2 separate regions of the Homo sapiens genome follow, and region 2 is linked to region 1. Evidence: fine-mapped expression QTL. A gene starts in region 1. The other region holds a variant in brackets. All regions are shown on one strand. Distances are from middle to middle. Region 1 holds the start of LHX6 (LIM homeobox 6). Region 2 overlaps MORN5 (MORN repeat containing 5).

Evidence for each region. PIP is the estimated chance that this variant, and not a neighbour inherited with it, causes the effect. A credible set is the group of variants that fine-mapping cannot tell apart.
Region 2: its variant is the best candidate, but not a certain one, in a credible set for the expression of LHX6 in nasal epithelium (TOPMed, PIP 0.58).

Annotation. Positions count from the first base shown.
Region 1 is chr9:122,227,350-122,230,160 of GRCh38, forward strand. It overlaps LHX6 (LIM homeobox 6), which reads right to left and starts at 1,608. Exons shown (of 10, transcript NM_014368.5): 1 at 1,308-1,608; 2 at 60-131. The coding sequence starts at 1,391.
Region 2 is chr9:122,191,916-122,194,726 of GRCh38, forward strand. All of the region lies in intron 4 of MORN5 (MORN repeat containing 5), which reads left to right. Among named protein-coding and RNA genes, the nearest start is that of MORN5, 33 kb to the left of the region's middle. The variant C/G (reference allele first, on the strand shown) is at 1,030.

The DNA.
Region 1 (2,811 bases):
GTCCCCAGGGCCGGGCCGCTGGAGGACTGGGCACCGCAGGCAGGGCCAAACGGACTCACCATGGCGGGCGGCGCGGTCCCTTCAAGACAGCGGGTGGTCGCTTTGCAGCCGGACCCTGGCTGGGCCATCACCTGGGGGAGGGGGGGAGGGAACGCAGGCGGCGGCGGCTGCTGAACTGGCTCCGCACAGCCTGAGCCCAGCGCCTCCCCGCGCCTGTTATATAAACCGGCGCCGAACAATGAGTCCTAACTTTGTAGTGGGCATTTAAAGCCCTTCCCCACAAAAGCGGTGTCTCTCTAATGAAGCAATTTGAATTTGGATTGGATTTTTTCCCTCTCTCTCCCCCTCTCCCTGCACTTAACCCGTGGCTCTTGAAGTAATCGCTTAGTTCCCTTGCAATCCAAGCCTCTGAGGGGGGAAGAAAAACACGCGCACACACACACAAACTACCTGCAATTAGAAATTGTCGTGAATGCCCAAGATAAGAGGTAGCCAGAGTGTCAATTCCAACTGTCAATCAGTGAGATCCATCAGGCCGCCCAAAGAATTGCAAATTTGATTTTTTAATGGTAGTAATTAAAAATCGAATTTTTTCTCTCTCCACCCGCCCCCCCACCCCACTCCCCTTCCTCGCTCCCTTCTCCTCTCGGCACAAAATGCAAAAAGGAGAAAAGAGAGAAAGAAAGAAAATAAAAAAGAGATGGGTGAGGGGCGGAGGGTGGTTGAAGAAAAGAAAACCCCGAGCGCGGTGAGCACCCGCCCGCCCGCCCGCCTGACACGCGCGGCGAAATTGAAGCAGCTATATTGACACGGATTCAGGCGCCTTTCGAGGGCCAGTCGGAGGGAAACCCGGAGCAAAAAGAGAGCGAGATCGGGGCGAAACGGGACCAAAAAGAGAAAAGAGAGGCGCTCAAGGGGAGGAAAAAGCACCCTCCAGCCCCTCGGCGCGCCGGGTACCGGCCCCGCGTCGGGATTCTCAGCGCTGCGCCGGCACAACCCCCGGCGCATCGGCGCTATCAGCGCCTATTCAGACGGACAATACCGGCCTCGCCTCCTCTTGATTCGCCTGTGTCTTTACTAAATCGCTTTTTGAGAAATTCCTCCAACATTTGCATAATGTGTTCCCGCTTTCCGCGACCCCCCCCCCCCGCTCGCGCGCGCGCTCCCACACTCACAAGCACACACTCACAGGCGCACCCTCGTACCCCTCCTTCCTGCAACCGCCCGCCACCCTGCTCGGCCCGGCTGGGTCCCGGACCCTGCCCGACCCCGGCCCGGGCCGCTCACCCAGTCGTTCGCCGGCTCACCTGGTCGGTGGCGGGGCCGCCCTCGGCCGGCAGCCGGCAGCCCTCGGGCAACGCCGGGGCGGCGTTCTCATGCTTCCAGTACATGGGCCGGGGAACCTCGGGCTCAGCGGGCGCGCAGCGCGGAGAGCTGCGCCGAGGGGGACCACAGCCGCAGTGGGAGCAGAGGCTGCTGCAGGAGCAGGAGGAGAGCCGAGGCGCCGGCCCCGCCGCCCCGGGCCCGGCCTCAGCCCCCGCCCCCGGCCCGCGCGCAGCCCCGGCCTCCCTGGCTGCTGCCGCCGCTGCCTCGGAAGAAGGTCCCGACAAACTTGGAGAGGCCCCCGCCCCCTCCTTCTTCTCCTCCTCCCCCTCTTGGTAGTCCTCCTCCTCCTCTCCCTCCTCCTTGTCCTCCTCCCCCTCCAGCTGCAACGGCGGCCGCCCTGCCGCTGGAGCCCCGCTCGGTTCAAGATGAGTCATGCGTGACCAATCCCCTCCCCGCCAAGGGAGAGCAAGACACACACGACGAGGCAGAGACCCAGAGAGAGAGACACACACACAGACACAGAGACACACAGAAACTCAGAGCTGCCGACAGAGAGACTCGGAGACACGCCAGTACACAAAGGCACCGGCGGGCACACATCCACCCAGCTCTCACTACCGCTCCTCCCTCAAGGGGCACCCATCTTCCTCAGACACTGCCCCACTCACAGGTACAGGAGGGACCCATGGCCATACCATCTGCGGAGATAGATTCCGTAGGAGGTCACACGTTATTACACTGTGTTGATGCAATCCCATGCCTGGTACATTTGTGTACACACTAATGTAAGTGATTACCTGTTCACATCATTTACACGGGCACGAGGCACCACACTTACTCTCACACACCTGCACAGATACCTCTGCTCTATAAGAACCAGACAGTGCACCAGCTCCCAGGGACTGAGGTGAAACGGGAGGGTAGTTTCCCTGAATTCTCTTGGAAGGGATTGCTTGGCACATTCCCCTTCCCTTCAGGATTTGCTTAACCACACAGTCCAATGCCCATCCCTTCTTCTCTAGGGTTCTACTGACAATGAGAATGGTAGGGAAGGCAGGAAGGCCCAGGCATTTAGACAGAAGACACTGCCCCCAGACACACAGACACAGAACCTTCAAACCCAAAGATGGAGCCTTACACACACTAACGCCCTGCAGCATACACAAGTGGACACTTAGAGTCTCAGCCCCCTTCTCCACACACAAACTGAGCCTAAAGAGACACATGTAAACATACATCATCTAAAAACAAATAAGCACACTCAGACATAGATCCAGCCCTACAGACACCATGACAGCCTACCCTCACCACATCACACATGTCATCACCTCCATAATTGCCCTCATTTACAGATGTAAACACCCCCCCACACACAATTGTTCTTCCATTTGTACACACAGCCATACTCAAGAGGGCACAGATTTTCACAGAGCTCCAAACCCATGTATAACCTTATGTCCTCTACTCAGGCACCCTCAAATATGT
Region 2 (2,811 bases), 35 kb before region 1:
AGCGAGTCCCTTAAGGACGCTCCCTTACAGGCATCCATTTTGGGAATGAAAGACCTATCACAATGGTGATTGTAGCTTCCATTCCTGGGTGCCCACCAAGGGCCGTTCATCCTGGTCAGTCCTCACTCTGCCCTCTGCAGAAAGTCTGGTGAAACCTGCTACAAAGACGAGGAGGGTGGCTCAGAGATGGGAGTGACGTGTCCAAAATCACCCAGCGAGTCGGTGGCTCAGCATCGGATCCAGGCTTGTTCGGCTCCAGAACTCCTTCTAGTCTTTGCTGTGTTGCCACATGAGCCCTGAAGTCCTACCCTCACAAGTTAACTTCTGGCGTTTCTTTTGGTTTTTGGCATTTCCTGTGCCCCAAGTGCTGTGCTAACCTTTTTTAGGAATGATCTCACTTGGTCCTCATGCAAGCCTTCAAGACAGGCATCTTTGTAGATGAGGAAATGAGACCTAGGGAGGTGTGAGGCCACTCGCTCAAGGTCTGTGGGCTAGTGACAGAATTCCAGTGCCCAAGCTCTTAACCATCATGCCACACTGCCCCCTCCCTGCGAATCCTCTGAAGAGCTGATATTTCCTTGCAGCTGTTCTGAGACTTTCAGGATCTCTTTTTCCCCCAGCTGTGCACTGACCTGCAGGCTGCACTAATGTCACCTGGTGACCTGGGCACAGCTCAGCAGACCCGGCACAGCTGTGCCCTGTACAGGTCAGCTCCTCCCTGCCTTCACTGAGAGGCAAGTCCCAGGCCAGCCAGGCTTTGAGCTTCCTGAGTGGGGTTAGTGCCCAGGTATGACCCCACACAACCCAGCCTCTCCATGTGGTAGGGCTGCCCAATCTATTGCCCCAAATCACAAAAGGAACCAGCAGCTGGCGGTCTTGGACTTGCCCTTGGCGTGCCTGCCTTGCCCTCTCACAAGCTCTGTTTGCCCAGGGTGGGGAAGAAATTCCTCCCCCTTTGTCAAAACCCCACAGGGTAAACCTGTTGCTTTTATGTCCCCAAATTTACATTTCTTTATTCATTATTCACCA[C/G]GTACTTATGAAATACTTTAAGTGCTAGATCTGTGCTGGGCCCTGACCATCAAAAGTAAATGGTACAGGCTGGAGGGGGTGACTACAACGAACACTGTGACTTCGGCTCAGGGAAGGCTAACATCCGGGCAGGGTCTGTGGGGGTAGGGGACAGCCAAGAGAGTATGAAGCCCAGCCCACACATTCATGGGGCCTTTAAGTATGGATTGTGACCCTGTTCATCAGACAACTCAAAATTCACACCCCCTTTCCTGACCATAGTGCCTCAGCACACTATGAACTTATACATTTTTGGAAGAAATCCTAGAATAATACACTCATATTACATTTGGTTGTTTGTGTTAAAAGCAGCAATTTGTCCGCCGGGCGCCGTGGCTCACACCTATAATCCCAGCACTGTGGGAAGCCAAGGCGGGTGGATCGTGAGGTCAAGAGATCGAGAACATCCTGGCCAACATGGTGAAATCCCATCTCTACTAAAAATACAAAAATTAGCTGGGCGTGGTGGCGCATGCCTGTAGTCCCAGCTACTCAGGAGACTGAGGCAGGAGAATCGCTTGAACCCGGGAGGCGGGGGTTGCAGTGAACCAAGATTGCGCCACTGCACTCCAGCCTGGCGACAGAGCGAGACTCCGTCTCAAAAAAGAAAAAAAAGTAATTTGTCAAATGTAAATGTTTAAACTATACTGTAATTGTTAGCACCTTGCTTAGGCCTGTTTTCAATTTTATATACACTAATACTACAAAATGGAAAGTACCTTGGGTCTCTGTTGTGTTCTGAGAGGCCCTGAACCCAAACCAGGTCCTGAAGGAGGAAGGGTGGTCCCTTGGGAATAGCAAGTGCAAAGGCACAGAGGCACTGGCGAGCATGCACGTGGACTACTGCAGTTCCTCCGGTGGCTGCATTTTACAGTGCGAGGGGAGCTGGGAGGGAAGCGGGGAGGGAAGCAGGCCTGGGAAGCAGGGGAACCTGGCGACCTTGAAGGCCAGGCTGAGGAGTGGAGAGCCTTCTCAGGGAAGTTTTTCACTGGGGTAGCCCATGGTCAGATTTGGGGTGTCTCTTGCAATATGTTTCTTTTCTTCTCTATAAAAAGCCCAGTTATCCCAATGACCTATGAGGGCAGGGCATGCAGGTGGCAGCGAGGTCACTTCCAAAGCTTCAGAACCGGAATAAAGACATCTTTCGGCCCCAAAGATAGACCTAAACCTGAAGTGCACCTGGGTCCTGGCAGCGCTCACTGCTGGTCTCAGTCCCACCTGTCCCTAACACTGGCCACATGGCTGGCCACAGGATTGGGCTTGCCAATTCATTCATTAATTCAAAAGCTATCAACTGAGAACCTACTATGTGCCAGACACTCCCCTAAGCACTGGGATATCATAGTGAACAAGCAGGCAGGGCTCCTGGTCTCACTGGAGCTTACAGTCTGGATAGGGAGACAGACAACATGCACGTAAACAAATACATATGCAGGGAGTGGCTTATGCTATGGAGAAAATAAAATGAAGACAAGATGGGGTGACTGTGAGTGGAGGCGGTTAGATTAGGGTCATTGAGAAGGTGACATTTGAGTTGAGACCTGGATGCCGAGAAGGGGGTGCATAGGGAATATTTGTTGATGGCAATTGACACAAGTCAGAATGAAAAAGGCTTATTCCAGACTTCATCTGGGAGAGTATTTATTAAGCACCTACTGTATGCTGGGTCTAGTGGTCAACAAATCAAACATGGTCCCTGCATTGAGAGCTTACAGTCTAATGGGAGAGAAAAACATTATATAA